Linked DNA regions of Homo sapiens. The protein of the gene in region 1 purifies or fractionates together with the protein of each later gene. This does not show direct contact. Each region holds a gene or a part of one and is shown in the gene's direction. Other genes may lie near its edges.

Region 1 (4,512 bases):
GCCTGTCCCAGAGTAACGTAGCATCTTCCCTGCCCAAGCTGGCCCAGGATTGTTCTGTTTGCCAAGGCTAGCCCCGACTTTCCCTATCTTCACAAGGCAGCCCTTCAAATGAGTTCCAGGATTCCTTCCCTCCCAGGCTGTTTGAGAACACTCTCTACTCAGCTAACTTCAGATTCAACCCCCTCCCCAAGCAAGCCCCATGGTCCCACCGCCTCTAGGGCTAGCTCAGGGCAGTATCACAGTCTGGGAGCTGCCCCAGCTTCCATGTCCAGTGTTGGGGGCTGACAGGGGGCACCAGATGGGCTGCGGAAGCTGACACCAACATCTCTTCCTCCATCCCCAGAGATTTCCTGGAGCCCGATTCAGGGGTGAGTGATGTGGGAGGGGTCAGGCTGGGCTACAAGTGGAAGGAGTTTGATCCCACTCTTGGCTCCTAGAGTCCCGATCCCTACTGGAAACTAAAGAGCCGAGATTGAGGGGCGGGCTGGAGCCTGGGGGCTGGGTTCATATCCCACCTCAGCTGCAAAGTCCCATGGACTACGTGGGTGTGAATAATGTCCCTGCCGAAGCTCAGTTTGTCCCAGGAACCTGCCCACACACCCAGGGAAGACAGTCGTTGCCATCAGGGTTGGTTTTGAGGTCTGAGTCAAGGCCTGGGGGCAGGGCGGGGGGCGGTTGGCAGGGTGAGATGGAAGGTTCGATAGTGGGGCGCCTGACTCACTGCTGCCCCCTGACTCCCCTAGACATGTCCAGAGGTGGATGAAGAAGGTTTCACTGTCCGGCCTGATGTGACCCAGAACAATATCCTTCTGGCACCCCCTGGGGGCAGTTGTTGGCACAGCAAGGACAAAATTCTCCGTAATAACCAGTCCACCTTCAGCAGTCCTCTCTGTGTACATCCTGGAGAGAGTCTCCTTTGTGGATGAAGCCAACCTAAATGTAAACACCCACTCTATGGGGTCAGCACTGGGCAAGAGGGAGAGAGAAAAGGAGATCTAGCAGGGCTTCCTGGAGGAGGGGGCACCAGTGTTGGGGTTTTGCAGCCGAATAGGAGTTTGCCAGTTAGTTCTGGGCATGCTTGTGCAAAGGCTTCTCGGGGGGGGTGGGAGTGCTGGTGGGACATGGTGTCAGGACTGAAGGTGGCGCGTGGTGAGCGATGGGATTGGGCAGGACCTCGAAGGGTTTGAGCAGGGAGGGACGAGGCTGGATTGGAGAGCTGACTGGGGGAAAGCTTGTGTTGGGATTGGCTTGGACCTTGACTGCAGCCCACGCACGGCCGAGCCCTCCCGTTTCTCGTCCAGCGACTCCGACTTCGACGATGAAGAGCCCCGCAAGTTCTATGTGCACATCAAGCCTGCCCCGGCCCGGGCTCCAGCCTGCAGCCCCGAGGCAGCAGCGGCACAGCTCAGGGCCACCGCGGGCAGCCTCATCCTTCCTCCTGGCCCAGGGGTGAGGCGTGGGAGGGGTGCCCTGGGTGTTGCTAGAGAGGCTGGCTGGATGCATTCGTGTGTGATGTTGCCCACTTTGTCCACAGGGCACCATGAAACGCCATTCTTCACGTGAGTAGCCTTTGGTCTTCAGAGTGGGGAGGATCCTAAGGAAGGGAGGCTATGGGTTTGGGCTTGAATCATAACTCCGTTTTGTAACTTTGGGCAGGCTGCTTAACCACACTGACCTTCAGTCTCCTTTTCTGTAAAATGAGGTCATTATGAAATTAAGTGAGAGCTGAAAGGGGTAGCTGGGGCCAGGAGAAGCTAGCATCTGGAGACAGGCTCGCTTAGGCTTGAATCCATGTCTGCCTGATTTGCTGATCACCTTGGGCAACTGGCTGGACACCCCCGAGCCTCGGTCCCTTGGTCTGTGGAGTGGGGAGCATTGCAGGCAGGGTGACAAGAAGGCTGAAGGAGGTGCATCTCTTGTAGGGGACGCTGCTGGGAAACCCCAGAGACCTCGGTCTGCCCCCAGAACCAGCAGGTGGGTTCCACACGAGTGGGCAGGTGGGGGCTGTCCCCACCTCCTCCCTCCACCTCCCCATGTCTCCGCCTGGTGTTCTCTTGTCCCGGCTGGGAGTTGACGTCATGCTGGGGTTTTTTTGTTTTTGTTTTTGTTTTGAGACAGAGTCTCACTCTGTCACCCAGGCTGGAGTGCGATTTCAGCTCACTGCAACCTCCACCTCCTGAGTTCAAGCGATTTTCATGCCTCAGCCTCCTAAGTAGCTGAGATTACAGGCACCCACCACCACGCCCAGCTAACTTTTGTATTTTTAGTAGAGACAGGGTTTCACCATGTTGGCCCGGCTGGTCTCGAACTCCTGACCTCAAGTGATCTGCCCACCTCGGCTTGCCAAAGTGCTGGGATTACAGGCATGAGCCCTTGTGCCTGGCCCATGCTGGCTTTTGAGGGACCATTTAGTCATTCATTTGATGAACATTTATTGAGTGCCTGCTGTGTACCTGTGCTGTTCTAGGGTCTGGGTTCTGAGACAGGTCTCCCTTCTCAGAGTCACATTCTAGTGACTCCAGATTTTAAGAATAGCAAATAGGGCCAGGCGTGGCGGCTCACGCCTGTAATTCCAGCACTTTGGGAGGCCAAGGCAGGCGGATCACCTGAGGTCGAGAGTTCGAGACCAGCCTGACCAACATAAAGAAACCCCATCTCTACTAAAAATACAGCATTAGCCAGGCATGGTGGCACATGCCTGTAATCCCAGCTATTCGAGAGGGTGAGGCAGGAGAATCGCTTGAACCTGGGAGGCGGAGCTTGCAGTAAGCCACTGTTGTGCCATTGCATTCCAGCCTGGGCAGCAAGAGGAAACTCCGTCTCAAAAAAAAAAAAAAAAAAAAAAAAAAAGCAAATAAGTTAGAGCATATTCGATACTTCTAAGTGCTACGAAGAAACTAAAGCAGATGACGCGAAGACAGGAGGAGGTGACTTCCCTTGAGGTGGGGTTGGGAACCTCCCTGAGGGGGTGACTTGGAGCTAAGCCCCAAAGAGGAGCTAGGAGGTGACTGTGAAGAGAGCTGGGGAAATGGAACTCCAGACTGGGAACAGGCTGCACACAGTGGCTCACACCTGCAATCCCAGCACTGGCCAAAGCAGCCAGATCACTTGAGGTCAGGAGTTTGGGATCAGGCTGGCCAGCATGGTAAAACCCCGTCTCTGCTAAAAATACAAAAATTAGCCGGGCATGGTGGCAGGTGCCTGTAATCCCAGCTACTCTGGAGGCTGAGGCAGGAGAATCGCTTGAACGCAGGAAGCGGAGGTTGCAGCAAGCTGAGATCGTGCCACTGCACTGCAGCCTGGCCGACAGAGCAAGACTCCGTCTCAAAAAAAAAAAAGACTGGGAACAGCATGTGCAAAGGCCCCAGGGTGGGATGAGGCTTGGGAAAAATAGAAGCAGCCCTCTTGGCCTCACCCTCTCTAGCTGTGCAGAGAGATTGCAGTCAGAGGAGCAGGTGTCCAAGAACCTCTTTGGGCCGCCCCTGGAGTCAGCCTTTGACCACGAAGATTTTACAGGTGATGGGGATAAGGGATTGGAGGGCATGGGTGTGGCCGGAGGGAGGTTGGGTGGGGCCATTGCAGAGTTAGGCCAATGAGGTCCCCTGGAAGCCAGGCTGGAGGGAGGACTAGTCCGTGTAGGGGTGGGCGGGGCCAGAGTGCGCGTGGGAGGGGCCATAGATAGGGTGGGGCCTTGGCCAGTGGGCGGTGACTGAGTGGATGGGCCGGACATTTGTGGAGAGGGAAGTCACCAGAAGGTGTAGCCTTGGGGGCGTGCACAAGGACTTTGAATGGGGGCCCCCCTGACCTTCCCTCGACGTGGCCGTGGCCTGCAGGAGGATGGGCAGGGACTCTGAGTGGGCGAGGGTCGGAGCTGACCGCCCGCTTCCCTCCCCAAGGCTCTAGCAGCCTGGGCTTCACCTCCAGCCCCTCCCCTTTCTCCTCCTCGTCGCCCGAAAACGTGGAGGATTCCGGCCTGGACTCTCCGTCCCACGCGGCACCTGGCCCCTCCCCAGATTCCTGGGTCCCCCGCCCAGGCACCCCGCAGAGCCCGCCCAGCTGTAGGGCGCCACCCCCAGAGGCCAGGGGTATCCGGGCACCGCCTCTGCCAGACTCGCCGCAGCCCCTCGCCTCGTCTCCAGGCCCCTGGGGGCTGGAGGCCTTGGCCGGAGGAGGTGAGTCCAGCGGGCCTGGGCCTGAGAGTTGCTGGAACCCTGGGCGGGGGATTGAGCGCCTGCTTTGGGCAGGGCCTGATCAGGCTGCTGGAGACACAGCCAGGACCAGGCAGGCAGAACCTCCCACCGTTGCAGGGACAACAATGAGATGGACATTTAGCAAGGCAGGCGGTAGCGGGTGCCAGGTGGGGGCCCTCCCTGAGGAAGGGACATCTGAGCTGAGATTTGAGGGAGGTGAGGACAGAACCACGTGGACATGAGGGGAAAGGCGTGCTGGGCAGAGGGCACAGCCCCTGCAAAGGTCCTGGGGCAGGAGCGCGCTAGGCCTGTCTGAAGAACA
Region 2 (5,293 bases), on another chromosome or scaffold:
TGAGCACAGGAGGGGGAGGCTACAGTGAGCTGAGATCCCTCCACTGCACTCCAGCCTGGAAGACAGAGTGAGACCCTGCCTCAAAAAAATTGGCCGGGCACGGTGGCTCACGCCTGTAATCCCAGCACTTTGGGAGGCCAAGGCGGGCGGATCACGAGGACAGGAGTCCAGACCATCCTGGCCAACACGGAGAAACCCCGTCACTACAAAAATACAAAAAATTAGCCAGGCGTGGTGGCACACGCCTACAGTCCAAGCTACTGGGGAGGCTGAGGTAGGAGAATGGCGTGAACCCGGGAGGCGGAGGTTGCAGTGAGCAGAGATCGCGCCACTGCACTCCAGCCTGGGCGACAGAGCTAGACTCCGTCTCAAAAAATAATAATAACAACAATAAAAAAGTTTTTAATCCTAGTATTGCTCTCTAAATATAAATGGAAACAAGCCCAAAACAGGAATCATATGCTCCAGCAAGTACATTTACTGTTTGTAGGTGTAAGGAAAAGGGGAAGAAAAGAGACTGAGGTTTTGGATAGTGCTTCACTATTTTCATAAGTTTAAAAGGTAGGTTCATGAAGTATCCACAAAGATAAAGCAGTTTAACCCAAGAATAGCTCACCCTCGGCAGTCTGTAACTTGGTGGGGGGCGGGGGGATGGGGAAAGCTATTCCTACTACTTTCTAGAGCAGCGGGAGAAAATAGCCTTAATAATCCAATTATGTTAATCAACAAAAACCAATTTCACAGACTGGCCGCAAACCTAGAGAAGGCACCTATCACAGCTACCATTCTACACAACTCTATTGCCTAACGCAGGAGAGGTGAGACACTTAGAATCTTTCTTACTTTCCTGACGTGGCTGGAGACTTGAAATTAACTTGCAAATTGAGCATTCTCTCTAATAAAAACTGCTCCCACACATGCCAGGGCCAAACCCGAGTAGTCTGAGGTCCCGGATCCCTCCAGTGGCGCAGCTTTCGGAAGCCTGTCTTGGGGGGGAAAAGTTCAGCAACGAAGTCGCAGGCTCTTAAACCTTTCTCCCCAATTCCTTCTCTCCGACGTTAAAGCGGTGGCCGGGGCAGGCCCGCGGAGGGCGGCCTGGAGAGCGATACGCCCGGGGCCTCCACCAGACCCCACTCCTTTCCGCGTCTCCCGATGCCTGGGAATCCGGGGCGGGTCTGAGAGGGCTGGGGCAAAAGGAACAGTCACCTTCGCGGCGAGAAAGAGGGTGGAGGCAGGAATTCGGGCCAGGCTCTCCCGGAGCTGGCCAGGACTGGCCGAGCCCGACCCCGCACTAACCCGCGAGAGAGGTAGGGCAGCGAGGGTCCGCCGCGGCCCCAGCGCCTACTGCTGGGGGAAGGGGCGGGGGCTCCGGAGCCGAGGGCCGAGCGGGGAGGAGGCAGAGGAGGAGGAGAGGGAGGCGGGGCGGGCAGGCCCGGCCCAGGAGCTGGGCGGCGCGACTCACCTCTGCTCCCGGCCTGCGGGGCCAGAGTAGCCAGGATCCCGCGCAGCTCCGACGCGGAGATCCGCACACGCTCCAGCCCTTCCGCCATCTTCGCGGCTGCTGCTACAGCCGTAGCGGCTCCGCCACCGCCGCGCGCAGCCAGGAAACCACCACAGACGGGCGGCGCGCGCGCTCGCCCACCTCCCGGCCTTTCCCCGCCCCCTGCCGCCCTCCCTTTCCGAACGACGGTGGCCGCGCTGGGAGGAAAAGCGCCCGCCGCCGGTTCCAGAGGGGCGGGACCGGAGCGAGAGCCTGGGTGGGGCGGGCGGGCGCTGCGCGTGCGCAGAGGTGCGGCCGGGGAGGCGCGCGGAGGCTGGAGCTGGAGGCGCGGCGCCGGTGAGCTGAGGTGAGGCGAGGCCGGGCCGTGCCAGGCCAGGCGGGCGTTTGCGGCGGTGGCTGCCGTTGCTGTTGTCGTGGACACCAAGGACACTGCTAGTCTGGGACTCGGGTTGACAGAGACACCCCTCAGCCTGGGCTCCTCTGGACACCTTAGGCCAGGCTCTCCCGCCACAGGCCCGGCCTAGCGCCGCGGGCCATTACTTGGGACCTTGAAGATCTGCTAAGAGTAGTTGTTACTATTCCCTTTTTTTTTTAGTTGGAGTCTCGCTCTGTTGGAGACTCCCGGGCTGGAGTGCAGTGGCGCGGTCTCGGCTCACTGCAACCTCTGCCTCCTGGATTCAAGCGATTCTCCTGCCTCAGCCTCCCTAGTAGCTGGGATTACAGGTGCACGCCACCAAGCCCGGCTAATTTTTGTATTTTTTGTAGAGACGGGGTTTCACTAGGCTGGTCTCGAACTCCTGACCTCAGGTGATCCACCCGCGTCGGCCTCCCAAAGTGCTGGGATTACAGGCGTGAGCCACCGCGCCCGGCCGCCCCCTGACTTTTAAAAACTAGATACGATATAGTTGGAATCGTGTGGAAGGAAGTACATCAGGAGGCATATAAGTCCATTTGGGACCTGTAATCCCGGCGACTCGGAACGCTGAGACGGGCGGATCGCTTGAACCCGGGAGGCGGAGACTGCAGTGAGCCGAGATCGCGCCACTGCACTCCAGCCCGGGAGTCTCCAACAGAGCGAGACTCCGCCTCAAAAAAAAAAAAAAGTCAATTTGGGAATTTCTGTGTCACTATGGATTCTTGAAAAAAATTACTGCTGTGGATCTCAGGTTGACTTTTTAATTTCCCATCTTTAAAATTGAACTATACCAGAAGGCTGGTACTTGAATCTTTTTTTGGAGAACTGTACAGAGGTGAAGCTCCCTTCCCCAAGGCCTCCTGCCTCCACCTGTTGCCCCTCCACAGCCCCATAGGCTTTTACCCCACACCCATCACAGAATAGTTACCAATTATTCCTTAGTCTGAGCCGAAGGGATTGCCACAACCTCTGACAGAACTCCTTCAGTTCCTTTTACGTGACACTTTGTCACCGGAAGGTTAAGCATAAGAAGAAAGTCAGTAGATGATGGGTGAAAAGATCCAACAGTTCAGAAGAGGAACCATTTGAGTGGTCAGAGCAGAAGACAGCCTTTGCCACCAGATTTGAGAGAAATAGGAAGAAGCGTTAAAAAATAATCTGTTTCATATTGAAATTTGAGAGGCCATTGCATGATTTCTTTTTTCAGCTGGAAAAATAATGGAAAACAAGAAAACTTTCTTAGGACAAATGGCACCACCCATTTAATGCAACAGTGTCAGTGAACTGCAGATTAGATATGCCAAAAGTTAAACCAGTTCAAGAAAATTTACCAGAACTCAGAAGGAAAAGGTAATAGATAAAAACTGAGAGACAAAGATAGGAGACATGGAGAAGGGGTACAAAAAATTAATAATTAAATACGAGTTCCAGAAGGGGATAATACAGCTGACTGCAGAAGAGCAATAATCAAATAGTAGAAGAAAATTTACTACGTTGGTGGAAATTTTTGAATTATCAGATTTAAAGAATTCATGAAATACCAGGTAAAAAGAAATGACAAGAAAGACAACCATATTTAAGTCAGTATCACAATGAAAGCTGCTGAGATTTTTTGTTTTTCGTTTTTTTTGAGACGGAGTTTCACTCTTGTTGCCCAGGCTGGAGTGCAGTGGCACAATCTTGGCTCACTGCAACCTGCCTCCTGGTTTCAAGCAATTCTCTTGCCTCAGCCTCCTGAGTAGCTGGTATTACAGGCGCCCACCACCATGCCCAGCTAATTTTTTGTATTTTTAGTAGAGATGGGGTTTCACCATGTTGACCAGTCTGGTCTCGAACTCCTGACCTCAGGTGATCCACCCGCCTCAACCTCCTAAAGTGCTGGGATTACAGGCGTGAGCCACCGCGCCCAGCCTTGAATTCAGTTTCTAAAAGTAAAAATTGTACAAGTTGGCCGGGCGCGGTGGCTCACGCCTGTAATCCCAGCACTTTGGGAGGCCGAGGTGGGCAGATTGCCTGAGCTCAGGAGTTCCCAACCAGCTTGGGCAAGATGAAACCCCATCTCTACTAAAATACAAAAAAATTAGCTGGGTGTGGTGGCGGGCACCTGTAGTCCCAGCTACTTGGGACGCTCAGGCAGGAGAACTGCTTGAACCTGGGAGGCAGAGGTTGCAGCGAGCCGAGATTGCTCCACTGCACTCCAGCCTGGGCGACAGAGTGAGACTCCGTCAAAAAAAAAAATTGTACAGGTCATATTTACTTAGCACAAAGTAATAAAACTAGAAGTGAATAGCCACAAATGAAGCAAAACATTCTAACCATTTGGAATTTTTTTAAAAACAACAATTTTAGGCCAGGCCCCGTGGCTCATGCCTGTAATCCCAGCACTTTGGGAGGCCAAGGTGGGCAGATCACTTGAGGTCAGGAGTTCGAGACCAGCCTGGCCAACATGGCGAAACCCCGTCTCTACTAAAAATACAAAAACTAGCCGGGCGTGGTGGTGGGTGCCTGTAATCCCAGCTACTTGGGAGACTGAGGCAGGAGAATCACTTGAACCAAGGAGGTAGAGGCTGCAGTGAGCCGAGATCACGCCACTGCACTCCAGCCTGGGTGACAGATAGAGACTCTGTCTCAAAAATAAAACAAAACAAACACTTTCCACCCATGGACACCGCCAAGTCTAAGTCAGAGTCTCCTAAAGAGCTCGTACAGCTGAAGAAGCTCTTCATTGGAGGGCTGAGCTTTGAAACAACCAATGAGAGCCTGAGGAGCCATTCTGAGCAATGGGGAACACTCGCGGACTGTGTGGTAATGAGAGATCCAAACACCAAGCACTCCAGGGGCTTTGGATTTGCCACATATGCCACTGAGGAGGAGGTGGATGCAGCCACGAATGCAAGGCCACACAAGGTGGATGGAAGAGTTGTGGAACCAAAGAGAGCTGTCTCAAGAGAAGATTCTCAAAGACCAGATGCCCACTTAACTATGGAAAAGATATTTGTTGGTGGCATTAACGAAGACACTGAAGAATATCACCTAAGTGATTATTTTGAACAGTATGGAAAAACTGAAGTGATTGAAATCATGACTGACCAAGGCAGTGGCAAGAAAAGGGGCTTTGCCTTTGTAACCTTTGATGATCATGACTCCGTGGATAAGACTGTCATTCAGAAATACCATACTGTGAATGGCCACAACTGTGAAATTAGGAAAGGCCTGTCAAAGCAAGAGATGGTGAGTGCTTCATCCAGCCAAAGAGGTCAAAGTACTTCTGGAAACTTTGGTGGTGGTCGTGGAGGTGGTTTCGGTAGGAATGACAACTTTGGTTGTGAAGGAAATTTCAGTGGTCATGGTGGCTTTGGTGGCAGCTGTGGTGGTGG

What was found.
Region 2: the proteins of FCHO1 (region 1) and SRR purify together in Homo sapiens (affinity purification with mass spectrometry; one large-scale study listed by BioGRID and IntAct). This does not show direct contact.

Annotation. Positions count from the first base shown.
Region 1 is NC_000019.10:17,774,713-17,779,224, forward strand, and holds part of FCHO1 (F-BAR domain only protein 1), read left to right. Parts: intron 1-343; coding exon 344-368; intron 369-743; coding exon 744-801; intron 802-1,270; coding exon 1,271-1,449; intron 1,450-1,534; coding exon 1,535-1,559; intron 1,560-1,922; coding exon 1,923-1,974; intron 1,975-3,424; coding exon 3,425-3,516; intron 3,517-3,896; coding exon 3,897-4,172; intron 4,173-4,512. UniProt on the Homo sapiens protein: Functions in an early step of clathrin-mediated endocytosis. Has both a membrane binding/bending activity and the ability to recruit proteins essential to the formation of functional clathrin-coated pits.
Region 2 is NC_000017.11:2,302,171-2,307,463, forward strand, and holds the start of SRR (serine racemase), read left to right. Parts: upstream 1-1,779; 5' UTR 1,780-1,847; intron 1,848-4,306; exon of another isoform or gene 4,307-5,293. Other genes in the region: SMG6 (telomerase-binding protein EST1A), read right to left, coding at 1,463-1,550. UniProt on the Homo sapiens protein: Catalyzes the synthesis of D-serine from L-serine. D-serine is a key coagonist with glutamate at NMDA receptors. Has dehydratase activity towards both L-serine and D-serine.